Homo sapiens: one gene and its partners. The protein of the gene in region 1 interacts with the protein of each later gene in a pairwise test. Each region holds a gene or a part of one and is shown on either strand. Other genes may lie near its edges. The genes, in order: KLF3, BACE2, KIF1B and NUP58.

Region 1 (7,606 bases):
CCCTCCCTGACCCTATATTCATGAGCAGCTGGAGTTTTTTAAGACAACAACAGGGGGGTGGAGGTGTTTGTTCTACGGGTGTGAATAATAACACCAGCTTTATACAGGGGACCTGCCCTATTTACAAATAAGAGCTGCCACATACAGTAAACATCATAAGTGAAATGTGATTTTATCATATTCAAGCAGCAGAGACCTTCCTAATGAACACTAGCCTCCCTCCTGATTTCTTTTGTCCCTTTCTGCCCCATTCCAATGGCTAGTCCCTAGCTCAGATCAAATTCCGAGTTAGGGTAATGATTATGGTTCAGCCTCAGTGCATCAAGAGGAAAAAAGATAGAGCACTGCTGTTAGGAATTCAGATTACAATTGGGGTACCCCACAGAACCAAAATTGGAGCAACTGTAAGCCTCCTTTAGTCACAGAACTAAATTCCAAGACAGACTGTGGGACATCTACAGTAACCCAAAATTTTCACTGTCTTTTTCAAATGCAGTTATACACATCTTTGCAGAGCTGCTCATCTGTTCAACATATACACACGTTTATAGAAATTCGCCTTTTAAGAATGTGATTCTGTTCCTGACATTTATCTAAAAATTATTATGCAATCTGTACACCAGAGTACTAATTTCTAGAAGTCATTCTAAAATGTCTATTTTCCCTTTGGGTTATTTTTAAGATAGTAAAATCCATTCACAGTTCCTTTCCCATTATTTCTCTTTACTTTGTTAGCCAGGACTGTTTAACTCAAGCTTACGTTATCAGAGATTTAAGAATGTGGTGTGTGCAGACTAAGTACAGGTAAGGAAAAAAAAAAAGAAAAAAAAAGGAAAAAAAGAGCATCACTGTGCCCATAGCAACAAGAAGATTGGGTTTTAATTTAGAAACTTTGCAGTGAATAAAACAATAGCTTTCTGCAAAACTCTGTTGTCGTTTTGTACCTGACAAGGTTTTGTGGTCTAAGCAGTTACTTTTCTTTGTTATTCCCATGTTGAGATTTTTGTACTTGCATTCCCTTTCATGCAAGCTAAATGTTCTTTACAATGTATCATCATTGAACTTACCGATAGTACATTAGGTTTTTTTCTTCTAATAAATAGTTCTGCAGCAAAGCCCACTGACTGCAGAAATGAAGATACCAGTTTCTCTAGGGAGTTTAATTTAATCGAACATCTAATTTCAGGTTTCTATTAACAGCCTAAGGTCAACTAACATACCTCTTTTCAAACCAGAAGAAATCACTCGTGGACACTTTCCTTAAACACTATTACTAACTCCAAAAAATTTGTAGATATTAATGCTAGCAGATTGTTTTTTCCCCTAAAAGCAAGTCTTCTTCCCTAGGGTGAGGCAGATCATCCAGATGAATTTCTCTTATAAAAATGCTCCTCAAATTCGTACAGAAAAGGATAGCACAAAACTGCTGTGTGGAAAAACCTATAATGAACAACTGGCCTATTCCCCACTTGATTTTGCTGGCACATTTCAGGTACTTGTCAGAATACCACTTCATACTTTTTCCCATATACCAGACTCTTGTGAGAATATAATCAATATATTTAAAATGTCTTGGGTGATATTAATGGAAACATAAATTCTGAGTAAGAAATTCAGTGGTTAAGTGTAAAATGTTTATTTTAGTGAAATACAAGAAGGTGAGCAATTTCCAATTTCCGTTTAACTTGACTTATTAAAAATAAGTCTCATTCACATTCTTCTAGTATTATTGTATACTGCTATAAAATTTAAACCAGAAAAGTGCTTCTCCTTGTCAGTAGCTATCTGCCCAAAAAAATGAATATGACAATTCCAGATCTCATCTGCCATCTCTAAGAAAGCCACTTGGAAATGTTAGGTAGGTCCCATGGGTCCTGATCCAGGGATCTGTCCCTGGGTCCCCATCAGGCTCGGCTGCAGGCAGTTGCCTAAGGCGTCTTCCGCCTTCAGCCACGCTGCAATCCTTGCTCCAGGCACTGCGGCAGGTTCTCTCCATGCCCCCAGGAAGACTCTCCAAACCCGACCAGCTCATTTCTCCTGCCCCGGAGGATCCAGACGCCCTGGCAGCTCCTGGGCTCCAGAACCGAGAATGGGATGCTGCCTCCAATCCCAATTGCCCTAAGTTTCTTTCCAGAGGGCCGGGAGACTGCTCCAAGTTTGCTGTGGCGGGCGAGCGGCCGCGCGCCGTGTCCTGGGAGGGGGGCGGCGGGGGGCGCGGGCGGAGGGAGGGGAGGGGAAGGACGCGGGAGCCTGGGTTGTGGTGGTGGTGGGGGGGCACCGGGAGGGGGAGGAGCAGGAGCGCGCGGCCGCGGCGCTACCTTTCTCCAAACAACGTTGCCACACGCGGAGAGCACGGAGATTTCTGGGGCTTTGGAGGGAATCGTGAGCGGGCGGGAGGAGGCCGGGGACCACACAGGTGAGCCCCCGCCCGCGCCCTGCCCGGGACGGCGGCGGGCGCTGCCAGCCCCGCTCCCCCGCACCCGGGGTCCGCACGGTGCCTCGCCTCAACCCCTCACTTTTCACCGCGAACCCGTGACCCCCTCCTCCTTGCTTGCTCTCCGCCCCCACCCCGGCTAAGTGTAGCCGCCACACTTTCCCAAGCCCGCAGGCGCCCCCCCCAACACCAGCGCTGCACCCCCGACCCATTCCCCGCGGCCCCCTCCAGGAGAAAAAATGAAACCAGACTGGCCGAGGAGGGGGGCGGCAGGGACCAGGGTGCGGAGCAGAGGTGAGGGAGACGGGACTTACTTTGCGAGGCGCGGTGCAGGGCGCCGCCGACGAGAAATAAAGGCCCCGATACGGGCTGCCTGGAGCCCCCCGAGCGCAGCAATGTCAGGGCTCCAGTCCGGGCGGCGTTGGCGGCCGCAGGGGACGGGGACGGGCGCGCGTGCGGCGGGCGCTCTCGCTGCGCTCCGGCTCGGGCCCCGGCTCCGCGCGGCTCCGCTCCTGGCTCCCCTCTGGCTCCTGGCACCAACTCCGGGCAGTCACATGACGCCGGCGCCGCTCGCTCTGCGAGCCTCCCGGGGCTGGCGGGGTAAGTAGAGGCTGGGACCCGGGGTGGGAGGGTCAGGGAGGGGAGAGGGAGCCGCCGCGGCCGCCCGGGCTGGGCGGGTCCCCACCCACTTGGGTGGAGGCAGCCGCCGGAGGGGTCGGCCGAGTCACTCGCGCAAACACGCACCCCGCCCTGCGCCCTTCCCCCGCCACCCCCGCCTCCCGCGCCGCCTCCGCCCCGCCCCGCCCAGTCACCCGGGGACGGCCTGACAGACACTCATTATTCCCCGGAGCCGGGCGCCGCCCCGCCGGCCCAACCTGTCCCACGAGGCGCGGCGCGGCCGTGGGGCTGGGCGTGCGCGGCGCGGCCTCCGCCCCCCGCCCGCGTCCCCGCCCGCGTCCCCTCCCCGCGCCCTCCTCCCCGGAGTCCGCGCCCCGCCAGCCCTCCCGCCCGGCCCAGCCGCCGCGCCGCCGCCCGAGCCCGGGGGGAAGGAAGGGCGGCGCTGCCCGCTCCGGGCGTCACACGGCTGCGGCCCGCTGCGCTGCTTCCAAAACACACAGCCGGGCTCGCGGGCGAGCCGAGGCGGGGGGCGCGGGCTGCCAGGGCCATCGATCAGCCGGCTCCAGCGGGAAGGGCGGCCCCGGGCGCGGCGGGAAGGGCTGGGCCCCGCGGCCGGCGCGGCGCGGCGCGGCCCCTCCTCGGCTGAGCGCACTCAGCTCACTGCAAGAGAAAAGCCGAGCCGAGGCGGCCGCGGTGCAGGAGCGAGTGGGCCGGGCGGGTTCGGGAGGGGAAGAGCGGCCGCTGGGGCGCGCCGAGCCTCCCTGGCCCCGAGTCGCCGGGGTCAGGGGACACCCTGTAGGCGCGCTCTTTCTTTGTGCCCTGGGGCGACGGGTCCCCCTGGCCGGCGGCCCAGGCGGCGCCCCCCACCTCGTGGGACTTTTCTTTGAAGGCCCGGAGACCCCTGGGGCAAAACTCCCACGGGCCAGGCCTGCCGCTGGAGCTAAAAAGCGGCATTTGCGCAGTTGGGCTTGCCTGGAAACTTGGCAAACTTTGGTCGGATCCTCCCCTGCAGAGCGAGGGCCTGGCCTGGCGACCCCCTCATTTCAAGTCGCTTCTAGGGACCTAGCGCCCTAAGCTCAGTGGCCTTCAGGGTGCTGCGAGCGAGCGGGGCGGCACAAAAGCGCGTTCGGTCCAAGCCAGGCCCCTTCGAGGACTTTGTGTAGATTGGTACCTAAGTTTAATGCCTTTTGAGTTTCTTTTTAAACAGTATTAATGTAATAATTAATGTAATAAAAAGAACAAAGGACGAATTCGTTCGATTGTTTTAAGTTCTGTGTAATGTTTAAAACCGCCCCTGCTTCAGTGTATGGCTTATTATTGCTTCAAGATGTTTTAAAGGCCCTTTAAGTTGACCCATCTCGCTTTGATGCTTCATCCAGACATCGTGCTGCTTAAAACGGAGTGATAATAGTATATTTCGAGCCGCTTCATGTAGCTACACAGTATTGTAAAATTAGTACTCGGTAACCTCAAGTAGTGAAATCGCATATTTTAAATAACGCAAGTCCAGGAAAGGCCACGTGGAGGATACCCAGAACCGACGCCGGCTCATGGGACGTCGTGCTGTCCCATAAGCTTCATCTTTAAAATGTAAAGGGTGTGAGTTTTTTTTTTCTTCATAATGAATAAAAGACATTCCAGAAAAAAAAAGAGTTGGATTCGTGTCAATTACTAATTGCCATTTATTGATCACTGACATCATTAAATGGCTGATTGGCTGCCTTAAGGTTTGCATTAGCGGAACACCGTGCTAGGAATGGCTGGTGAAACTGGCTCATAGTAGGTGCTCAAAAAAGTACGTTTTTTTCTCCAGGGACACAGTGACGAGAACTTGAAGCACATAAACCATGTTTTTTACCTTGTTCATGTGGGTGTGGACGCAAAGGGGAAGAGCGAAATAGGCCTGTCGGAGAAAAGTGTGACCCAAGATAAGAAGGGAGTGGTTTTGATATGGAAGGGGCAGGCGGCAAAGGAGAAGAAAAGCCATTTTAAACAGTTAATTAGTGAACACTGTGTTCGGTGCCCTGTGGGAAGCTGCTCAAATGCAACTTGTCGGAAATGAATCTATCTAGTGCTGGGTAGCTCAGTGAAGGACACCATCATTCTTCAAAGTGCCCAACAGGGTGGGGCGCGGTCGCTCACGCCTGTAATCCCAGCACTTTGGGAGGCCGAGTTGGGTGGATCACTTGAGGCCAGGAGTTCGAGACCAGTCTGGCCAAGTTGGCGAAACATCGTCTCTACGGAAATTACAAAAATTAGGCATGGCGGCGCACGCCTGTAATCCTAGCTATGTAGGGAGGCTGAGACAGGGTGATTGCTTGAATTCAAGAGGTGGAGGTTGTAGTGAGCTGAGATCATGTCACCACTGAACAGAGTGAGACTCTGTCAAAAAAAAAAAAAAAACCAAAACAAAACAAAAAAAAAACAAAACCCCAACAGAAGCACCTAAGCCTTTCTTCTCGCTAGCAGGGCATAGCCCATGTTTCACTGAGTCCTGGACCTCCTTGGTCACTACCCACTCTCTGGCCACTATGCTGGCCCAGCCTGTTGCCACCATGTCTTGTTGGTCATCCTGTCATCCTGTTTGTAGTATGGGCTGAAGCATGAAAAAGGCATTGGAGCACGGGAGTAAGAGTGCCCTTTCCAAAATGCAAGCCTGATCGTGTCAGTCCCTTCAATGGCTTCCCATAGGATGAAGTCCTAAGCTTTCCACCCCTGCTGGCCTGGCCTCTGCCTGTCATTACAGACACTTCTTCCTCTTCTCTCTTCCTACTCTTTTCCAGCAACGCTGAACTTCTTTCCGTTCCTTTCTTCCAACTCTCTCTTCCCACCTCTGGCCCTTTGCACATGCTCATTTTTCTAGGTAGAAAAGCCTTGTCTTCTCAACCTGACCTCTACTCCCATTTCCCTAAATTCTATACATCGTTTCAGTCTTGACTTAAATGACATTTTCTCCAAATATGTATTCTCTCACTGCACCTTTGGACAAGTTGAGGTGCTCTGGTAACATCTAGTGGGGCGTGATGGGAGATGTTTGGGTCATGGGAGTGGATCCTCCTATTTCCCCTCTTGTAACACTTTCCGTTCTTGTAGTTGGCTATTTAATGATCTCTCTGTGGCACTAGACTGGAAACTCTATGAGGGCAGGGACCTTGTCTTTTCAGCAAAAATGTATTCCCAGGGCCCAGATGTTCAATGAATATTTGTCAAAGGAATAAATGTGGTTTATGAGTTGCGAGGAGGGAGGAGTCATTCTGAGCTGAAGAGGTGAGTGGGGGCTATAGGGAGGCAAGTGGCAGTGAACTATACCTCCATCAGTCCAGGGGCTTTGAAATGGTGAAGAGGAGGGAAGAGGGAGTTACCCCCCCTGAGTGCTTTTAAGCAACAGAGTGAGATAGTAAAAGCGATGCCTGGGTCTTTTTAAAATTCCTAACACTAGCACAGTGCCTGGAACATGGTCAGGTGTTCAGTAAATCCTACATGACAATCTCAAGTGTGATCTTTGTGGTAGCTGCTTTGCGCTTTTTCCTTGCTGACAGCAGGCCAGTCTGGTTTAGGTGTGGGAAGCCTATCCTCAGTGGAGGATACCCATGCCTGGTCCCAGCAGAGGAACCCTGGTTACTCCCAGCCAATCCCAGTGTCTTTTGCCAGTGACTGGTTGGAGGGTAGGTATGCAACCTAGTTCTAGCAAGTGGGACATGAAGGGAAGTGTGCTGGGGTTTTTTTCCTGATACAAGGAAATCCCCAGACCTGCTTTGGAAGCTGTTAGGTGAGGATGTGATGCTTGAAGCTGTAGTAGCCATCTTGTATTCGTGAGAGAAAGCCAACGTTTCCGTTTCCATGTGGATAGTTTTTTTTTTTTTCAAGTCATTCTGTTTTCAGCTCAAATGTTGCCTCCTCAGGAATGACTTCCTTGACCACACAATTTAAAACATACCCCCCTTCCTCTTTGCTATGGTTCAGATATTTGTCCTTTCCAAATCTCGTGTCAAAATTTGATCCTCAGCGTTGGAGATGGGGCCTGATGGGAGGTGTTCGGGTCATGGGAGTGGATCCTTCATGGATAGATGAACACTCTCCCTGAGGATGGGGAATAAGTGAACACTTCCTATGTTAGTTTCGGAGAAAGCTGATTCTTGAAAAGAGCCTGGGCTAGGCCTGGTGGCTCACGCCTGTAATCTCAGCACTTTGGGAGGCCGAGGTGGGCAGATCACCTGAGGTTAGGAGTTTGAGACCAGCCTGGCCAGCGTGATGAAACCCCATCTCTACTACAAATACAAAAAAAGATAGAAGCCAGGTGTGGTGGTGGGCGCCTGTAATCCCAGCTACTTGGGAGGCTGAGGCAGAAGAATCGATTGAACCTGGGAGGCGGAGGTTGCAGTGAGCTGAGACTGCACTGTTGCACTTCTGCCTGGGCAACAAGGGCAAAACTCTGTCTCAAAAAAAAAACAACCGAGCCTGGCACTTCCCTCCTGGCTCTCTTGTTTCTCTCTTGCCCTGTGATCTCTGCACACACTGGCTCCCCTTCACCTTCTGCCATGCAAGGAAGGAGCC
Region 2 (6,896 bases), on another chromosome or scaffold:
TGAGACCTGGAACCAGAGCCACAGGCCCCTTTTGTGGGTTTCTCTGTGCTCTGAATGGGAGCCAGAATTCACTAGGAGGTCATCAACCGATGGTCCTCACAAGCCTCTTCTGAAGATGGAAGGCCTTTTGCCCGTTGAGGTAGAGGGGAAGGAAATCTCCTCTTTTGTACCCAATACTTATGTTGTATTGTTGGTGCGAAAGTAAAAACACTACCTCTTTTGAGACTTTGCCCAGGGTCCTGTGCCTGGATGGGGGTGCAGGCAGCCTTGACCACGGCTGTTCCCCTCACCCAAAAGAATTATCATCCCAACAGCCAAGACCCAACAGGTGCTGAACTGTGCATCAACCAGGAAGAGTTCTATCCCCAAGCTGGCCACTATCACATATGCTTACTCTTGCTTAAAATTAATAAATCATGTTTTGATGAGAAAAAACTATTCTATTTCACTAGCTTAGTTGTCTCTTTTTCCAAATCTTCTCTGGAAGTAGGTTGGCTATTACCCTGTTGGGAAACAGGGAAATGGCCTGATGCCCCTATTTCTGACCAGCTGTCAGGGAAGGAAGATGCAAGATGTGCAGAAGACACAAGGTAACGTCTACTTATCCCCGTGCTTCGAAACCGTGTGTTTCCCTTTGCAGAACTGGTTAGCCTCAAGCATACCCATCCAATCAGCTTAAATTGTTCAGCAGTTGACCTCTGTGCTTCTTCCTTTGGGGGTGTTTAATCTTTGGTAACAGTTGTGCAGTGGTAGCCTTATTTCGGGGGGCAGTCCCTACTTTCTGTCACTTATCGAGGCCTTTGCCAAAGAAAAGTGGAAGCCGTTTCCTTGACATAGCCTTATATGACCTGATGTCATTAGGAGAAGAGTTAAAAGACAGTATCCCCTCTCTCCTGCTTGTGTGCCAAGTTCAGTGTTCCCTTTGCATTTTTTTGGGGTGGGTTGGCTATATTACAGAATTCCACCAAAAGTGCTAAGTGTCCCCTCCTGCAGAAGTATCGTTTGTATTCACAGTAGGCTACGTGTGGATGTTTCAGCCATCTGCTCTGCTCCCTGGGTCCCCGGGTCACCACCATACTGAGAAATATAGGACTCTGCCAAAGAGACGTGGAGGCCACGTCGGCTTGTCATGGTGTCCTGGAAGACTCTCCAGCAGCCAGAAGAACCTTCTGTGCTGTTTTCACTAGAGAAGATTTGAGTTGCAGCCTCTTGGAAAGAACATGACGGCACGGAACGGGAGGAGGGGGCTCTTGTATCAGGGCCCGTTGTCACATCCGCTCTCAGCTTGTTGAAAACTCATAATCTCAGAATGCATTTCACACGGAGAGATGTCTGGAAGTCCAATTCTCATCCCATTGGCTTTTTCCGTGGTTGCTGTTTTGTGGGCCGCTTTGCACAGGAGTGAAGCCAACACCCCTAGATTGTGCCTTCACCCTTGCTGTGAAAAATTCAAAGCCCTGAAATAAGAGGAGGGAATCGCAGACATGCCCTGATTAGTTTTCCTGCTTATTTCTTCATACAGGCATCTTCTGTTCCGTTGTATTGTGTTAGGTTTCAGAGGCGGGGAGCTTCCTCCTGCAGCAGATGAACAGGCATAGTTCTTAAAATACAGGAAAGTAACAAGTGAGGTTTCCAGGTAGAGTAGGTGAATGAAGTTTGCCGTCATGCTCTGTATTTCATATCAGATTTCTTTATCTTTTCATATCGCATGTCATTGGATGTGACATTTTGATGAAAATACTGAAACTACAAAAGCATAACTTCGCAACAAGAATGAGATAGACAATTGAATGTGGGACATTTTTCTGGCATGTCTTGCTGCTGAGAATCGGACTTCCAGTCAAAACCCTGTTAGTGACACCCACCTCCTCCAGTTATGCAAATTGATGCTTAGCTTGGCAAGCTTTCAAGGAGGTTTGCTTGGAACAGGAAAGGAATTAACAACCCTTTGAGGGTGTCATTTTTACCTTGTAATACACTGTGGAAAATTCTGGAAGACGGTCCTTGCCTGAAAAGGTGCAACTTAGCATTAGGTTGTTATCAGAAACCTTGTCAAGTCTGATGGGAAATGAATAGATGCTGCTTTATTTCCTTGATAACTTCTTTGGAAGTCTGAAATAAATCCTGCCTTCAGTAACTGAAACCATTTATTAAAAATAGCAAGAAACAAGATGGGGACCAATTCTATTTTTATTCTTGGGAATTTGAAAGAGCCACAAGTGATTGGTGTCCGATCTCCCAGCATATACTGTACACTATTTTGTATTTCTCCTGAACCAAAACCAAGTACTTAGCACTCAAGAAACAGATGCCCTGTGTGTGACCGAGGGGAGTGTTTTTCCACAACAGGTTCCACTTCTGAACACTTGGAAGGACCTTGCCTGATTCATGGTGAAACACAGAGGTTTTGGTTGGAGATAAATTTGGGGTCAGTTACTGTTCAAAATTGTGAAAGTAGTTCCCAGGAAGACAGCATTAGTGACTCCGCAGTGCTTTGGGTAATAGATTTTGAAAAGCAATTGTGAGTTGGGGATTCCATCATTTCATTTAAGAGGTGAAGAGGGATTTAATTATTTAATACGCCGGGTGCAAACTTGTTAAATTCCTCTTTCCCTGTCCCTGCTTGGTGGAGCTGCCACGTGTGGTTCAGTTCTAAGTTCTGGACTAGTGCCACTCGATATCATTGGGAATAAATCGTTGTTCAACAGTCTGTTCCACAAACAACAGTAATTGAATTTCACAGACTTTATCCTGATTAGTGGAAATCAAATAATGGAGTGGAATCCCCATGTGTTTTCTCTTGCACAAACTTATTAGACTTGATTAGAAAACTGTTTGGAGGAAAAACTTGCCAGTAAGTTTTTTGGTTGTTGTTTTGTTTTTTTTGAAAAACGACGCAACACCATAAAGTGTAAAATTAGGGGTTCTGGCCAAGAGAGGTACTAGATTTTTTTAATGCCGAGAAAAGTCCATGCCACAGAAGTTATTGTGTATGTCTCTAGGGAGCTTTAAGAATTTCACGTTTGAACTTTACAGCTGTTTACCAATTAAATGGCAAGCTGGAAAAATACATTTTGAGAGGGGTAGAAAGAATAAGAATATAATTAAAAGTATGCTAACAAAATAAGCAGTACATATTTTTTTAGAAAATGCAGTTTAGGCCAGGCACGGTAGCTCGTGCCTGTAATCCCAGCACTTTGGGAGGCCGAGGCAGGTGGATCACCTGAGGTCAGGAGTTTGAGACCAGCCTGGACAACATGGTGAAACCCCGTCTCTACTAAAAATACAAAAAATTAGCCAACGATGGTGATGCCTGTCTGTAATCCCAGCTACTCTGGAGGCTGAGGCAGGAGAATCGCTTGAACCGGGGAGGCAGAGGTTGTAGTGAGCCAAGATTGCGCCACTGCACTCCAGCCTGGGCAACAGAGCAAGACTCCGTCTCAAAAAAGGAAAGAAAATGCAGTTTCATTCCAGCCATCCTTAGATTTCTTTTCCCCTTAAAGTGGCTGAATCCATTGGAGATGTGATTTATTTTGCAGATCCACCAATTCCAAACTTCAGGAATATTCAAGCGGGAGTCATGTGTAAGTGACAGCTTTGACAAAGAGAGACTGTGGCTGGGTGGCCCGGGTGTTGCCCACGCGGAGCAAGGATTGGTTCATTCAACGGATGGAGAGTACAGGATGGCTGGGACCTGGGAAGTTCCAGAATCTGAAAAGAGGGCAGGGCAAGAAGGAGCCAGAAGAGAGGTCCCACCCCTCAGTTGGCAGTGGGGCACGGAGGTCCGCATCAGCCAAGAACGTCCCCAGGATGCCGTGGGCACCTCATTTCACCCCACGTTTTTGGCACAGTCTACTTTTTAGGTATTTTGTAAAGGAACTTCTCAGGATTGATTATTTGCCAGAGGAACAATTAGGCCAAGAGAAACTTGCTTGACAGCCATGTGTAAAACACGTCTGTCCTAATCAAACTAGAGATGCCTCAAGGCCCACGCAGGACACAGGCAGGTTCAAGGTCATGCACCTGGAAATTTGTAGGGGAGGGTCAAGCAACTGAGGCCAAAGGGGGCCGGTAAAGTGGCTTCTGGGGTCTGAGCATCTGGAAGGCTCCTGGCAGCAGTTACCTGACAGTGTCGTTGAGGGGCACGGCAGCTGGGCCCTCACCGTTTCCGCCAGCTCTGCTGAGCCAGCCCAGCCCATGCATTCCGAACATCCGACAGCTTCTTTCTCCAGAATGTCTTCTGTCAGAGACTTCCAGGAAAGGAGCTCCCTCCTGTCTCACTGCTGTCAGCGTGGGAGCCCTGCTCCCCAGGCTCCACGTCCCCGGAAGGTCCATCTTGTCCTGGAGCACACCCAGCCCCATTCAGGGTCAGTGCAGGAGGGAACAGGGAATCTGCATTTCAGTAAGCTCCCCAGGTGAGGCTGCAGAGCAGAAACCACGGCTTTCAGACGTGAGCAGGCTCCCTGGGCTCTTGGTGTCACCCTGTTAGCCACATCTGCGGAATGTGGAAGGCAGAACATAGCCACGCTGCTTAGTGCTGCCAGCGAACCTCAGGTTGCATCAGTGGCTGGAATCTATCACAGCTGTTGGGGATACGTAACTCCCAGCAATAAATCCAGTATTTTCTTCCCTGCCCTGAGCTTCCTCTGGGTTTCTTATCAGCAGCTATTACACACAGATGTCCAGTGCTTCTAAACTAAATTGTACTGTGTAACTTTTACATCACACTTGTGTGCTTAAAAAGCACACCGTGGGTAGTGACTGGGCCAAGAGACATCACAAAGCTTCCTGATAAATTTGAATCCAGCCACGGCAAGAGCGACGTGCGGGTACCTGGTCCCTGATGCTTGGGTGCCCCGTTGAGCCTCGGGTACTTCTTGGACACTATTGTGAGAGCAGCCATCCTGGTGTCTCTGCCAGCATCTTGGGGAACGCTGTGATGGTAAAATATCTGTCTCTCCTCTGGGAATCAGGGCAGCCCTGAGAAGTGAGCAGTTCCCTTTACAGATGGATAATTGTTTGTGTAAGACCAACCAGATAAAGTCCAAACTGTGTAGAACACACGTGTGCCTCACACATAGCCATCTGAGTAAAATATTTTTTCCAATGTAGATTTATAATTAGAAATGACAGATTTATAATATAGACTTCAGTAAGTTGGGCACAGCTGTCACTTTCGTGGTATCAATAAAAGGCTAGAAACCTTGGGTGTCCTTGGCAACCTAGCCTTTGACATTGATGTTTTTCCATAGGATTTTCTTCATTTGGGTTGGAATAAAAATGCATTTTTATTCACAAGGCACAGACAGATAAGAATATCATAAGCAGGGAAGTGTCTCCAAAGGTCAGGACATATGTTTTTCTGTTGAGTGCTATATGTGGAGGTCATTGCAAGTTCCCTGATATGAGTATGGTTTCGCTTGCTACATTGTGCCTATTAAAGTAAAATTTTACACAAGCCTCGCATTTCTAAGATTAGTGTTCCTGAATGAAATGTTAAGAAAACATTAAAAGATTATCTCTTTTTAAGATGGAGGAAAAAAAGTGAACAAAGCTAATTAATCTATCATGAAAATTGCACAAAATAACATTTCTTAACAAATTTAATACAATTTTGTGTTCTTTGTTGCTAGTGGTATAAAACGAGATTTTTTTCCCTCATTTTTCTCATTGTAGATGTCATCTCTCACATTTATATCAGTGAGGTTTGAAATTCTGTGTAGCAGTTACTCAGCACATATGAGAGGGCAGCGAATGAATGAGATTTGTCATGTGCTAATAAAAGCTGAATTTTTGTAATCTAAAATGATGTATTTTCTACTATTGCTGTTAATTTGCATTGTTAAAAATTCTTAAAGTTTAATATGTTATGTTCAGTCATTGAAAGCGACCACTCATTTTTTTCTTAAAGTTGATGCCTTTTCTGCTGTGCTAGAGTCAGTATTTTGCTTCTGGCAGGAGAGCTGCAAACTGTGTATCCTCAAACAGATGCAAAAAGTAGTGCTTTGCAAAACGTTTGTTTTCTGTTTATCTCAGATTAACATCCTTTAATACAAGTTTCTTAAGTGTAACTTGTATTTCTGAAAATGCTTAAAATTATTTTATATTTCCCTTTGGGAATTTTTCTCTATTTCCAGCACGCTGATTTGATTTAAAAATGTAATAAGACCAAGAGTTGGAGTAAAGGGATATTCATTCCATGTTAAAAGTGGCTTCATAGCTACTGACAAATGTCTGAACTATTGTCGTGCCCTTCAAAACTGGAGTTTTCTAAAATAATCTTATTTTTATACTTGTATGTTCCAGCAATTTAAGATATATACCATTGAAAGGGAAATAAAACATTTTTGTTTATTTGAATAAATAATACTCCCAACCTGTTGCTTTTGGAATGTTTTGTAAATACTTCTCTTGGGTCACATGTCTGGCGGTCCATTACGTCCACTCCTTCATTGTGGGTTCCTGGAAAATGTCAAGGATAAAATGGAGTGGAAGGGAGGGTTCAGGCTCAATCATTAAGATGCAAAACATGCTGAAGGTGGGGAGGGTAAAGTGCTTTAGAGTCTGGAAACCCTACAGGTGGAAAGAAAACACCTGCAGAGAAGAAACTCAGTAAGCACATTTCAGCGGTCTTAAGGATGGGACAGATGGCTTAGCTTGGTCCTGGGGACTGAGGGTGACCAGGTTGGCAATGCCTGTGCGGTCACTCCCATGATCACCCTGCAGGGAGATGGCATTCTACCATTTCACAGACGAGAAACCATCTCTGAGTCACCTGCCCAGAAAAACACAGCTAAAAAGTGGAGAGGAACCCAGCTCTGTTCCCCTCCAACAGCCCAGCTCTTTCTCTGCACTACACTCTGGTCCATCCGCCATCCTGAACCACACTCTCAGAG
Region 3 (7,025 bases), on another chromosome or scaffold:
GAGCAAGACTCCATCTCAAAAAAAAAAAAAATTTAATAAAGATAAAAATAAAAAATAAAAACATCATAGTGATCTCTTGACCTCACAATCCGCCCACCTCAGCCTCCCAAAGTGCTGGGATTACAGGCGTGTGCCACCGCACCCAGCCACCTCTGCCTTCTTTAAAAAACTTTTATCTGGCTGGGCGTCCACACACCTGTAATCCTAGCACTTTGGGAGGCTGAGGCGGGTGGATCACCTGAGGTCAGGAGTTCAAGACCAGCCTGGCCAACATGGTGAAACTCTGTCTCTACTAAAAATACAAAAATTAGCCAGGTGTGGTGGCACATGCCTGTACTCCAAGCTACTTGGGAGGCTGAGGAAGGAGAATCGCTTGAACCTGGGAAGTGGAGGTTGCAGTGAGCCAAGATCATGCCACTGCATCCCAGCCTGTGTGACAGGAGTGAGACTCCATCTCAAAAAAAATAAAATTTTAAAAAGCTTTTATCATTTCTCATCAGATTACTGTAATAAAGATAAAGAATTCTCCCTTCCTCAGTGTATCTCTTCACCATCAATCCATTCTCTTTATTGCTGCCAGAGAAATATATATATTTTTTGAGATGGTGTCTCACTCTGTTGCCCAGGCTGGAGTGCAGTGGCGCGATCTCGGCTCACTGCAGCCTCCGCCACCTGGGTTCAAGCGATTCTCCTGCCTCAGCCTCCTTAGTAGCTGGGACTACAGGCGCACGCCACCACGTTCGGCTAATTTTTGTATTTTTAGTAGACACGGGGTTTCACCATGTTGGCCAGGATGGTCTCAATCTCCTGACCTTGTGATCCACCTGCCTCGGCCTCTCAAAGTGGTGGGATTACAGGCGTGAGCCACCGCCCCTCGCCAGAAATCTTTCTAAAACACAAATACCTGTTTAACATATTTCTGCCTTGCTCCCATCATCCACTCTAAACTCTTCAGTGCAGTATACAAGATTCTTCACTCCACACCTCCTGTTCCAGTCCCACGTGAATTCCCCAAGACTGATCATGCAGGACACCACTGCCTCCCTCCTGATCACGCAGGACACCGCTGCCTCCCTCCTGATCACGCAAGACACCGCTGCCTCCCTCCTGATCACGCAGGACACCACTGCCTCCCTCCTGATCACGCAGGTGTCGACACTGCTGCCTCCCTCCTGCGCATCCTTTCAAGGTCAGCTCATGAGCTCCCCACCATAGACACTTCTCCTCTGACTCCCATAGCATTTGAAACACACATCTCTATTATATGCTTGTGACCTAATATTCTGCAACCTTTATATTTTTTAATTTTTTAATTTTTTATTATTTTATTTTATTTTTTGAGATGGAGTGTCACTCTGTCGCTCAGGCTGGAGCACAGTGGAGCTATCTCGGCTCACTGCAATCTCCGCCTCCTGGGTTCAAGCAATTCTCCTGCCTCAGCCTCCTGAGTAGCTGGGATTACAGGCGCTCGCCACCACGCCTGGCTAATTTTTGTATTTTTAGTAGAGACAGGGTTTCACCATGTTGGCCAGGCTGGTCTCGAACTCCAGACCTCAGGTAATCCACCTGCCTCAGCCCTGCAAAGTGCTGGGATTACAGGTGTGAGCCACCATGCCTGGCCTAATTTTTGTTTTTGTAGAGACAAGGTCTCACTATGTTAGCCTGGGCTTGTCTTTAACTCCTGGGCTCAAGCAATCCCTTTGCTTCAGCCTCCCAAAGTGGTGGGATAATAGGCATCAGGCACTGTGCCTGGCCCTGTAAGCTTGTTGAGGGTAGGAACTGCGTCTTTTTATTTCTACATTCACAGTATTATCACAGGCCTTCAAACACCTCGAACAAAGGTGTTGAAAATGAATAAACCGAGAGGCTAGTTTGTGGAGCCTTGTGGGAAGACGTTCAGCAAAGAGGAAGGGATTCACACCTTGGTAGCCAGCTCTTTCTCTCGGTCCACCAGGCTTTCGATGTCTCCTGAATCATAGCCACTGCTCTCGCTAGGTGTGATGGCGCTTTCAAAGGTAGTGGTTGAGATCTGAGAGGAGATACTGGTGGAGGTGCTGAGGGTCCCACTGCTGAGGCTGGGGGATAACGAGTCGCTCAGGGATTTGGGGATGCTGTCACCAAGTCTCTCACGCAGCAGCAAAAAGTGGCGGGTTTTTTCCACCTGAGAAGATCAATACTACTGCTATAGCAAACACAAAGCTCGTTAAGACCTCAGGAGAGAAAAGTGAAAAGCTATGATCACATGCAGCAGCGGGGAGGAAGACTGATACTTTGGCAATCTTGTCCGAGAGTTCTTGCATCTGAACAACCCTGCCCCTGGATACCTCATGTAGGAGCTCCAGCTTCTCCAGCTCCCACTGGTGCTCAAGGATGAGGCTGTCTCCACGGGGCCGCCAGCCTGCTAAGTTCTCTTCTCCCCGCACATATGCCACTGACGTATCTAAGATTTTTCTTCTCCTTCTCTGCATACCTAAGACAAGAGGAAACAAGTTTTTGTTTCAGAAAAAAAATTCAATTCCAAGTTTAGGTCAAAACGAATTAATAATTCTTTTTTTTTTTTTTTTGAGATGGAGTCTCGCTCTGTTGCCCAGGCTGGAGTGCAGTGGCGTGATCTCAGCCCACTGCAAGCTCCGCCTCCTGGGTTCATGCCATTCTCCTGCCTCAGCCTCCCGAGTAGCTGAGACTACAGGTGCCCGCCACCATGCCCAGCTAATTTTTTGTATTTTTAGTAGAGACCGGGTTTCACTGTGTTAGCCAGGATGGTCTCGATCTCCTGACCTCGTGATCCACCTGCCTCAGCCTCCCAAAGTGCTGGAATTACAGGCGTGAGCCACCGCGCCTGGCCACGAATTAATAATTCTTATACGTAGCAAACTAAGACAGTTTGGTCTGAAGATATATGGGATTTTGTTTAAATAGCAAAGCAACTGAACGTTTTTAAAAACTGAGTTTTACATTCTTTGATAATTATGAAGACTGGGATGCAATTTAAGAAAATGATAAAATTATGATGTTAGGTGAAAATGCAGAAATATTAAATAGTCTGTAGTAGTCTATACACTATGGGGCCGGGCGTGATGGCTCACGCCTGTAATCCCAGCACTTTGGGAGGCTGAGGTGGGCTATCATCTGAGGTCAGGAGTTCGAGACCAGCCTGGCCAACATAGTGAAACCCCATCTCTACTAAAAATACAAAAATTAGCTGGGCATGGTGGTGGGTGCTTGCAAACCCAGCTACTCAGGAGGCTGAGGCAGGAGAATCACTTGAACCCAGGAGGCAGAGGTTGCAGTGAGCCAAGATGGCGCCACCACACTCCAGCCTGGGTGACACAGCGAGACTCTGTCTCAAAAAAAAAAAAAAAAAAAAAAGATCCTGTCCCTAAAAATAAAAATTTTTAAAAAGACGGAAGGGAATACACACACACATACACACACTCAGTAGCTCACTGGCTGACAGATGACAGAGAACTTTAGCCTCTATTATTTCCTGTTAATTTTTTTTAGTATTATGCTGGTTTTACATATTAAATACATGAATTTATATTAATTAAAAAAATTCCTCAAGAAACTATCTGGATAGTATAATAATTAGGTGCTACTTGGATTCATACTCAAAGTCTTCTTTACTTATCTAAGTCTTGCCTGTGGGCCCTGACTTGTTTTCCATGTATATTCTGTAAAATGACTCAAACTCACATTAATCAAATGCTATTAGAAAACCTTAACTTTTGTTCATGTTTCGGTTTACAAACATAGAAATGCTAAGTGCTGCTTAACTCCGCCTAGCTAGAGGAACAAGAGCAGTTTAAAAACACATTAAAAAGAATACAGAACAAATCTGACTTAATAATTTGATTTTTTTTTCTTTTTCTTTTTTGAGACTGAGTCTCACTCTGTCACCTAGGCTGCAGTGCAGTGGCACAATCTCGGCTCACTGTAACCTCTGCCTCCCAGGTTCAAGCAATTCTCATGCCTCAGCCTCCTGAGTAGCTGGGATTACAGGCACGCGCCACCACACCTGGCTAATTTTTGTATTTTTGGTAGAAAGGGGGGCTTCACCATGTTGGTCAGGCTGCTCTTGAACTCCTGGACTCAGGTGATCCACCCGCCTTGGCCTCCCAAAGCGCTGGGATTACAGGTGTGTGCCACCGTGCCCAGCCTAAATACAGGATACTTGAAACATACACAAAGATAACTATCACCTCCTCAATCCACAAGAGCTTACCTGGACTACCTGTGTCTGACATTTTGCATAAGCTGAGTTCGTAAATGCCAGTGACTCGATTCCTATTTGAAGAAAATAAAACAATTGTTTAATCTCTTAAAGCACAAAAACAGGAAAATTTCAATTTCTGCTACTTAAAATAGTGTCTTCTCTGCAGGGACTCAAATATAATTCCAGGCATTTCTTATTTGTCACCGCTCTTTTCTTATTTTGAACCTAAGTAGCATACCTTTTCCTAGAGGAGTCCGCTTTCATCTCAATTTAATTTTTTTATAGATAGGGTTTCCCTGTGTCACCCAGGCTGGAGTGCAGTGATGTAATCACAACTTACTGCAGCCTCGAACTCCTGGACTAATGTGATCCTTCTGCCTCAGCCTCCTGAGTAGTTGGGACTTCAGGCATACACCACTATACCCAGCTAATTTTTAAGTTTTTTTGTAGAGATAGGGTCTCCTTATGTTGCCCAGGCTGGTCTTGAACTCCTGGCCTCAAGTGATCCTTCCACCTTGGCATCAAAAAGTGCTGAGATTATAGGCATAAGCCACCATGCCCCACCTCATCTCTATCTTTTAAACACTTTATTTCAATAGGGTGAATAAAATTGAATGATAAACTAGAAAATTTAAAATATAAATGTGAAAACTAAAAATTTGTCTTTTCTTACTATAAGAGAGACGATATGAGGGAAACAATGACTAGAATGAAATGATAATCAACAACTTCTGGGGATTGTGAGTAGTAGGAGGTATAATACCTTCTATTGTATTAGTAACACTTATTTTTAAGCTGGGCGGTGATACACAGGTATTCATTGTATTGTTTCTTTCTTTTTTTTTTTTTTCCTTTTTCTTTTCTTTTTTTTAAATTTTGAGACAGGGTCTCACTGTTTCACCCAGGCTGGAGTGCAGTGGCTCTATCATGGCTCACTGCAACCTCAACCTCCCAAGCTCAAGTGATCCTCCCACCTCAGCCTCCTGAGTAGCTGGGACTACAGGTGTGTGTCACCACACCTGGGTAATTTTAAAATTTTCTGTGGAGATGGGGTCTGTGTTGCCCAGGCTGGTCTCAAACTCCTAGGCTTAAGCAATTCTCTGTCCTCAGCCTCCCAACGTGCTGGGATTACAGACATGAGCCACTGTGTATGGCCTTCACTGTATTATTCCTGACATATTTTGTATGCCTTAAATATGCATAACAAATCTTAAAAAGAAGAAAATTTCAATGGTACTCTGTTAGAAATAATGATGATGACATTTAAAAGTCTTTGCAAATTTAGTCTTTGCAAAATTGTTTTAGACGTGTTCACAATGTAATATTCCTTCCTTCCCTCATAACTCGTCCATCCATCAACATTTTATTAAATGTCAGCATGCAAGTCAGTACATTCCAGGTGTCAGTTACCAAAATGGTTCATAAACTGTAAACTAACCGTGAGACAGTAAGCCGAGAATACTTAAGGACTAATGATTCTGTTGTACTGAACAAACACACTGGAAGCTAACTTGTGTGAAAAACTTACGAATCTGGTGACTTTGAGTAGCCGCTGCCAAAGAGGCTACGCAGAGAGCGTGGTGGTGAGATCTTGGCATCTCGGGAGTAGAAGACCATGCACACATCCTTGGTGATGACAGCCGGCTGGATGCAATGATCCAGCTGAAAGCAGACAGGGTAGGTGCTGATGAAGTGCAGGCAGAGTACTGTGACTAGAGTCTATACACGAACGTATTTGGAAAGCGAGTCCCAGTTGTGAGAACTGAAGGATTTTAGCTCCACCAATTATTTCAACAGCCACCCAATGGATAATATGTGCAAGAGTAGGTAGTACTCCTTAGAGATGCATTTATTTTTATCTGAGGTAAATGTTGTTTCTCCTGATAGGTGAGGAAACTGAGGCAAAGAGAGTTTCTCCAAGGACATAGAGGAAGTAAGTGGCAGCACAGGGATTTGAACCGACAGGCTGGGTCTTGGGTCTGGGCTATTAACCACTATTACACTCTGTCCACAACTACAAAAACAAGAGGTGACATTTTCTTAAAAATCACACATTCTTCAAACAATGGTGATTAGGCTACTAAAGCTGAAGCTGCAATGAGTCATGTGATTTTTTGAGTAAACAGAACCCAGGAATAGAGTCTAATATAATCAGAAGAGTTAGCAATGTATAATAAAATGAAAAACTTAAGGATGTGGAGGAAGAAAGAGGACAAAACAAGTGGAATCTTCGCTGACCACTTCCTGCTGTAACCTGCACACTGTTCAGGGCTGACTGTTGGCATCAACTGAAGTTCCAAGTCTCCTCACCTCTAGGTAGGCCGACAAGGTCATGTAGATCTTTTCTCCATAGGGTGTCACTCGGTTCAGAAGAAGGGAGTTATGCAGAGAGCTATCCCACACAGCCTCAAAGCGGTAGAAGGTCCTAAGGTCAGAAAGACAAGAGGGAATCATCCAAAAGAAGCTAAAGTCACGTTAGTCCAGGTACTGCCACTGTCAATCATCCTAAAGAACCATACGCCAACCAACAGACACTTTCAGTTTATCAAACTCTAATAACAGAGAGGAACCCTTATCTCCTAGGAGGAAAAGATAGGTCCCCATCCTCTTGCTCCCAACCCCACCCATCATTAAGGAACACTTAGTTGTGCTTTTTTTTTTTTTTTTTTGAGACAGAATTTTGCTCTGTTGCCCATACTGGAGTGCAGTGGCACAATCTCGGATCACTGCAACCTCTGCCTCCCGGGTTCAAGTGATTCTCCTGCCTCAGCCTTCCGAGTAGCTGGGATTACAGGCGCCCGCCACCACG
Region 4 (7,025 bases), on another chromosome or scaffold:
ATCTGCCCACTTTGGCTTCCCAAAGTGCTGGGATTACAGACGTGAGCCACGGCACCTGTCTTTTTTTTTTTTTTTTTTTTTAAGGTAACCAAGATAATTTTAAGAATAGATTAGAGGTTAGAAGAGACTGATACCAGAGAAATAAATGCTGTTGTAGTAGTTCTTAAGAGAGATATGGCCTAAGCTAAGGTTTTTAAGGATGCTTGTAGTACAGGATATTTCTGAAGTAGGATCGACAGGATTTGTAACTAATGGAGTACAGGAGAAGGAAAGGATGTCAAGGATGACTGGTTTCTGGCTTAAGCAATTGAACTGAGCAAGGTTGGAGATATAGCAAAAAATGTTTGTGGTGAGATATGTAGGAGGCCAAAGGGACATCAAGATAGAACTAGACAATGAGGACTTAGGTAAATGTCAGTTTAGACTTAATCACCTGTAGGAGAAATGATGAAAGTGGGTGTGTCATTGGGGAAGTAAGGAGGTAGGAATGGAACTCTAGGAAGTGTCAGTTAAGACATGAACAGAGGAAAGAGAGCTACAGAAAAAAAGGACTGAAAAGGAATAGGGAGACAGCTGGGGGCTGACAGAGACACAAGGGCCAGAAGAAAGGAATAGAGAATGGTTATTGATAGAGTATTAGAGAGGAGGGACCATTTTTCTGCTGAGAGGGAAAGGAGGAGGATAAATGCTGCATTAGAGGTAAATCTAGGAGTAGAATAAAAATTGATATGTTACATCGATTGGATTTTCTTTTCTGTTTTTTTATTTTTTGAGACAGAGTCTCACTCTTGTCTCCCAGGCTGGAGTGCAGTGGCACGATTTCAGCTCACTGCAACCTCCCCCTCCCAGGTTCAAGTGACTCTCGTACCTCAGCCTCCCGAGTAGCTGGGGTTACAAGTGTGCACCACCACATTGAGCTAATTTTTGTATTTTAGCTAGAGGCAGGGTTTCACCGTGTTGGCCAGGCTGGTCTTGAACTCCTGACCTCAAGCAATCTGCCCATCTTGGCCTCCCAAAGTTTTGGGATCACAGGCGTGAGCCACTGTACCTGGCCATTCTTTTGTTTTTCTTAAAGAGCCATCTTTTTTGTGTTCACCATGGTTTAGTCTCAACTTTTACATATTTTCTCTCACAGATACACCCTTCTTCTATTGGCAAAAGGTAGTATCATGAACTTTTAAGGATCCTTATTGAAACCAGTATAATAGAACACTTACAGGTAAAGTAGGATTTTTGTTTGTTTGTTTATTCATTTATTTATTTAAATAGGAACGCCAGCCACTACATCTGCAGCTACAACAGGCTTCAGTTTAGGATTCAATAAACCTGCAGCATCTGCCACACCATTTGCTCTACCTATTACCTCTACCTCAGCTAGCGGTCTGACTCTTTCGTCTGCTCTGACATCAACTCCAGCAGGTGAGGCAGAATGAAAAACCGTTGCATTTAATGGTTAAATTTCAATTTTATCTGGTTAGAGAACATAGATAGTCACCTTACTACAGAAATTATTGATTTATAAAGAAGAAAATTCAGCTTTGAGCATTGAAGCAGGAGAGGCTGTCTTGATGTCCCTATTTAGAGAGCAAAGCAGGGGAGAGGGCTAGAGAGGTAAAATGTAAAGCTGTTAATATTGACTTTGTTTTGAAGGAGGCATTTAGTGACAGGGGAAGACAAAGACTTGGCATAAACCTTGCCTGGCTTATGATTCATTTAATATGAAGGTGAAGTTGGTGGCCTGGGTTGAAGACAATATTGCTATCTAGAATCAGTTACCTGGTACCATTCTAATACTCCTCAAAGCCCTTATTTCTGTCGCAGATTTTTGCTTTGAAGCTGCTATTTCTCTTTATTCTTAAGTATGTAATTTTTAGCAAGTAGTTCTTCCAAAGAGCCAATTTTATCATGGATGTCAGTTTTTAAAAACATCGTATTTGTATTTTTCTATGGTGCTGTTAAATAAGTTGCCTTTTGAAAGCTTACTATCTCTCTTTTTATAGCATCCACAGGATTTACTCTAAATAATTTGGGTGGGACAACAGCCACAACTACAACTGCATCAACAGGCCTCTCTTTAGGGGGAGCCTTAGCTGGTTTGGGAGGTTCACTTTTCCAGAGTACAAACACAGGAACATCAGGTAATTGATGGTATTTATTCTCCAGAATAGTAAATATTTATATTTAAATGTACTTATTTTTATTTTAGTACTTTGAGCAGGTCACTTTTTAATCTGCATATTTTCCTTTAAATATGAAAACTAAATTATAAAATGATGGTTTTCATACATAATTGGATGTATTAACCGTATTTTATTTATTTATTTATTTATTTTGAGATGGAGTCTTGCTCTGTCACCCAGGCTGGAGTGCAGTGGCGTGATCTTGGTTCACTGTAACCTCCACCTCCAGGGTTCAAGAGAGATTCTCCTGCCTCAGCCTCCTGAGTAGCTGGGATTACAGGTGTGTGCCAGCACACCTGGCTTATTTTTGTATTTTTAGTAGAGATGAGGGGGTTCACCATGTTGGCCAAGCTGGTCTCAAACTTCTGACCTCAAGTGATCCGGCTGCCTTGGCCTCCCAAAGTGCTGAGATTACAGGCGTAAGCCACCGCACCCAGCCTATTAGCCATATTTTAGAAATACATTTTCCTCTTTCTCAATATTGACTAACCAGATAAGGAAACAAAGAAGAGCCTGTTTAAGGAGTCAGTAAACTGATCTAGAGATAACATCTCTTCTAAAAAGAACAAAAATTGTATTAGCTCAGTAATGCATGGTCTTATAAAAGTATAGATTTATTAGGCTGGACACGGTGGCTCACACCTGTAATCCCAGCACTTTGGGAGGCCAAGGCAGGTGGGTCATCTGAGGTCAGGAGTTCGAGACCAGCCTGACCAACATGGTGAAACCGCATCTCTACTAAAAATACAAAATTAGCTGGGCATGGTGATGCATGCCTGTAATCCAAGCTGTTTGGGAGGCTGAGGCAGGACAATCACTTGAACCTGGGAGGCAGAGGTTGCAGTGAGCCGAGATCATGCCATTGCACTCCAGCCTGGGCAACAAGAGCGAAACTCCATCTCAAAAACAATAATAACAATAAAAAAGAAATACAGATTTATCAACACAAGATGCTTGAAATTTTGCGCTTGACTCACAAGTGTACGTTAATGACTTATGATTAACCGTAGTCTGGTCCTTTTTATTCCTTTTGTCAGTGAGGGAAGATGTAAATAAGCAAATGAATTCTAATACTTTTTTTTAAGTTTTGTGAAACGAACTTGGGAGTATGAAATTATATTCAATACATGTTATATTCAAATGTTATAAATTCACACTAGATTATCTTAAAAGTATGTAGTTCCAAAGTGTGTTTGTAAGACAAGATGTATTCACCTGAAAATACACCAACTGAAACTGCTTTTGTAGAGAGGGTTTAAAAGCCCTCTGTAACAAAACCCCTTTATAACAAGTGAAGATTGAGTGCCTACATACTGAATTGATATATGTTCTGGCCCTCGTAATAATGAAAAATCGCATCATCCAAACTGCATATGCCATCGAATTCAAGAAAGGTTATCAGTCTTTGGCCAAAACATCTCCAGGCTTGTTTCTTGTTGTTTGCCTAAATCAAATATGAAGAAAATCTAGGATCCAACTTTAAAAGCATTAGAGTCCTTTGATCAGTAAGGGGAAATTGTTGTAGTCTTTTGATGGAATTTATAAGTTATGTTTTATTTATAGGACTTGGACAGAATGCTTTAGGGTTGACTTTGGGAACTACAGCAGCTACTTCAACTGCAGGCAATGAAGGCCTTGGTGGTATAGATTTCAGTAGCTCCTCAGATAAAAAGAGTAAGTAATGCTGTTGTAACTTTATGTTTTAACAGTTCTGTTGAGGGAATGTCTAGGTTGCTCAAAATTCCTTTGTGTGGAAGATTAGCAGTTATATATTTAGTAGTAACAGTTAGCTATCTTAATGTGTATACGAATATGTATTTTTTAATAGGGATCATGATACATATGCAGTATTGTTTTGTAGTCTGTTCTTATCTAACATCAGAAGCATTTGTCTGTCAGTAACTCTTTTTAAATATTTTAATGCTGCTTAATATCAGTTTTATGGATGGATAAGTTAGTCAACCATTGTTCTCTTGTTAGATGTTTATTTCCAGATGTTTTACTTTGGGAAGTAAAACACTGGGCATTTATCTAAAAAGGCAACATAATATAGTAGTTTAAGAGTGTCTGCTCTGGAGTGGAATTGCCCGGGTTCAGATCCTGGCTCAACTGCTTATAAGCTCTCTGACCTTATTGAAGTTACTTATATTATGTGCTTTGGTTTTTCCTTATCTGTTAAATGGTTTGAGGGTTACTATTTGTAAAACCCTAGCAGAGCCAGACATGTAGGTGTCTCCTTTTATTATCAATGCTTGTTTATATTTTTGGTTATTTCTTAGGGAAAATACCTGGAAATTGGATCATTGGCTTAAAGAGAGGGATATTTTGGAGACTCTTAGTGTATAGTTTGTGAAATCGCTTTCCCAGAAAGATTTTACCAGTTTACCCCCTAACCAGTATGAAAATACCTTTCTTGCTGTGCCCTTGCCACGTTGAATCTTGGTTTTAAAAATTTGCTAATCCAAATTCATTTTGAAAATGTTTTCATTGTTTTTTGTGTTACTTTGTTTTGCACCATCTCTTCTGCTTCTGATGAAAGCATGTTTCACTAGAATATATACCATATATACTAGGGTATATATATACATATTGAACTTCTCTGAAGAAAGATAAATGGATGAAGCTGTGAAATAGTATCTGTGTATCTATATGACTTTTTTTTTAAAAAACTGGACACAGGTTTTATTATAAGGAGATACTATTCTAGGGTGAATTACTATTTTAAAGTTGGTAAAACCTTTTTAAACTTTTACAAAGTTTAGATTTCTCTTTCAGTGAAAATTGACAAATTTCTAAACAAAGTTTGTTTTTACTTAGTTTTCTCTGTAGCAACTCCATAATTAGGAAAGCAGCCTTAGCAGCTTATTTGTTTACTCAAGTGGAATAGCTTGGTACCACTTCTATTACTTTTATTTTAAGCATGAGAGTACTTCTCTATTATAATTGTTTTTAGGCTCAAAGAGCAGGCTAAGGCAGAAGAGTAAGATAAATGTAAGAAATTAATCTCCCCTCCTCTGCCCCTCCCCACATCTTCCTGCTTTCATAGTGTACCTAAGATAGAGTTGAGCAAGGAGAATATATACAATAAATGAAATAAATGTCTTAGATATGACATTAAATTTTATAAATATTTATGTACACACAAACATGTATATAAATAACTTGGGTGTGTTTCTACTATGGATCTCTGATTACTACATCCCAGTTCCCTTTTATCTATTGCTTATATCAAGGGATTCTTTTTTTTTAATCCAAATGATTTCTGTGTTTCTAGTAGCTGTATCAGTTAGCTTGGGCCCTGCAGTACCAGTGTGGGATTTAACCAGATAGAGAGTAGCAATAAACAGCATTCAGTGAAGAGGGGACAGCGTCAAGTGAGACTAGAGATGAGAAGGACCTTGACCCTTTTGAGGAAATGATAGAAGGCCAGATTAGCCATAGAGCAGAAAGATGAGGTTCCAGAAGTCATGGAGTCCTTATTTGCCATGTTGAGTTTTGTCATTATATTAATACCTCAGGCAATTTGGGTCTATTAAAGGGATTTGATGAGATTTGTATTTTAAGATTAAGAGCATTCTGACAGCCATATGGAAAATAGCATTCAGGAAGGCAAGAATTGTCATGGAGAACTGTTAGGAAGCTTTTGTAGAGCTCCACGTGTATTACTGAGGCAAAGCTAGGTAGATTAATTGGGGGTCCATGGTAATCAGGGATCCATGGTAGAAACAGGCTCAAGTTTTTTTTATATACATGTTTGTGTGTATGTAAGTATTTACAAAATATAATAAAATGTCATATCAAAGAAATAATATGCTAGTCAATTTAAAAGTTGGTGAATTATTTGGAGAAACATAAAATGAAATCCTTATTTTTATTTCCATGTCTCATAAAATCTAGGACGTCTATAGAAGATAGGTGGCAATTTTAGAGATACTAAATATGAAAGAAAAAAATCTTAATAAAATACAAAACATGGAAACATAAATTACAGTTGGATGAAAGAGGTAAAAAAGTAAAACCCCATGTGCAGAGGTAAAAGGTAAATGAGGAAAGTAAAATGCTTGATTTTTTTTTTTTTTTTTTTTTGGGATACAGTGACTTGCTGTGTCATGCAGGTTGGAATGCAGTGGTGTGATCTTACCTCACTGCAACCTCCACCTCCCTGGCTCAAGTGATTGTCCTACGTTAACCTCCTAAGTAGCTGGGACCACAAGTACGCAGCACCACGCCTAGCTAATTTTTAAAAAATTTTTTGGCCAGGCGCAGTGGCTCACGCCTGTAATCCCAGCACTTTGGGAGGCCGGGGCAGGTGGGTCATGAGGTCAGGAGATCAAGACCAGCCTGGCCAAGATGGTAAAACCCCGTCTCTACTAAAAATGCAAAAGCTAGCCGGGCACAGTGGCAGGCACCTGTAATCCCAGCTACTCGGGAAGCTGAGGCAGGAGAATTGCTTGAACCTGGGCAGCAGAGGTTGCAGTGAGCTGAGATCACGCCACTGCACTCCAGCCTGGGCACTAGAGTGAGACTCCGTCTCAGAAATAAAAAAAAAATTTGTAGCCACAGGGTTTTGCCCTGTTGCCCAGGCTGGTCTCCAATTCCTGGGTTCAAGCAGTCTGCCCAAAATGCTTGATTTTTAGGTGCTTATTTTTTCACATTTTAACATCTCTGAAATTGAGATACATCTTACAAGAGTCTAATATTAGAAATACATATTAAATTATGTAAATGAGACAAATAATATACTTAATGTTGAAATAGCTCTTAGAAATATATAAGAAAAATACCGTAAGAAAAGTGTGCAAATCACAAGTAAGCAGTTCATGAAAGAAGAAATATACTTGTCTC

Evidence for each region.
Region 2: the proteins of KLF3 (region 1) and BACE2 interact in binary tests that used the Homo sapiens proteins (3 or more experiments, as listed by UniProt).
Region 3: the proteins of KLF3 (region 1) and KIF1B interact in binary tests that used the Homo sapiens proteins (3 or more experiments, as listed by UniProt).
Region 4: the proteins of KLF3 (region 1) and NUP58 interact in binary tests that used the Homo sapiens proteins (3 or more experiments, as listed by UniProt).

The regions. Positions count from the first base shown.
Region 1 is NC_000004.12:38,659,604-38,667,209, reverse strand, and holds the start of KLF3 (Krueppel-like factor 3), read right to left. Parts: upstream 3,012-7,606; 5' UTR 2,749-3,011; exon of another isoform or gene 2,582-2,748; intron 2,417-2,581; exon of another isoform or gene 2,317-2,416; intron 1-2,316. UniProt on the Homo sapiens protein: Binds to the CACCC box of erythroid cell-expressed genes. May play a role in hematopoiesis.
Region 2 is NC_000021.9:41,276,155-41,283,050, forward strand, and holds the end of BACE2 (beta-secretase 2 isoform A preproprotein), read left to right. Parts: 3' UTR 1-6,376; downstream 6,377-6,896. UniProt on the Homo sapiens protein: Responsible for the proteolytic processing of the amyloid precursor protein (APP).
Region 3 is NC_000001.11:10,360,545-10,367,569, reverse strand, and holds part of KIF1B (kinesin-like protein KIF1B), read right to left. Parts: intron 6,642-7,025; coding exon 6,527-6,641; intron 5,879-6,526; coding exon 5,745-5,878; intron 4,288-5,744; coding exon 4,226-4,287; intron 2,471-4,225; coding exon 2,325-2,470; intron 2,162-2,324; coding exon 1,922-2,161; intron 1-1,921. UniProt on the Homo sapiens protein: Has a plus-end-directed microtubule motor activity and functions as a motor for transport of vesicles and organelles along microtubules.
Region 4 is NC_000013.11:25,311,614-25,318,638, forward strand, and holds part of NUP58 (nucleoporin p58/p45), read left to right. Parts: intron 1-1,269; coding exon 1,270-1,419; intron 1,420-2,000; coding exon 2,001-2,138; intron 2,139-3,743; coding exon 3,744-3,854; intron 3,855-7,025. UniProt on the Homo sapiens protein: Component of the nuclear pore complex, a complex required for the trafficking across the nuclear membrane.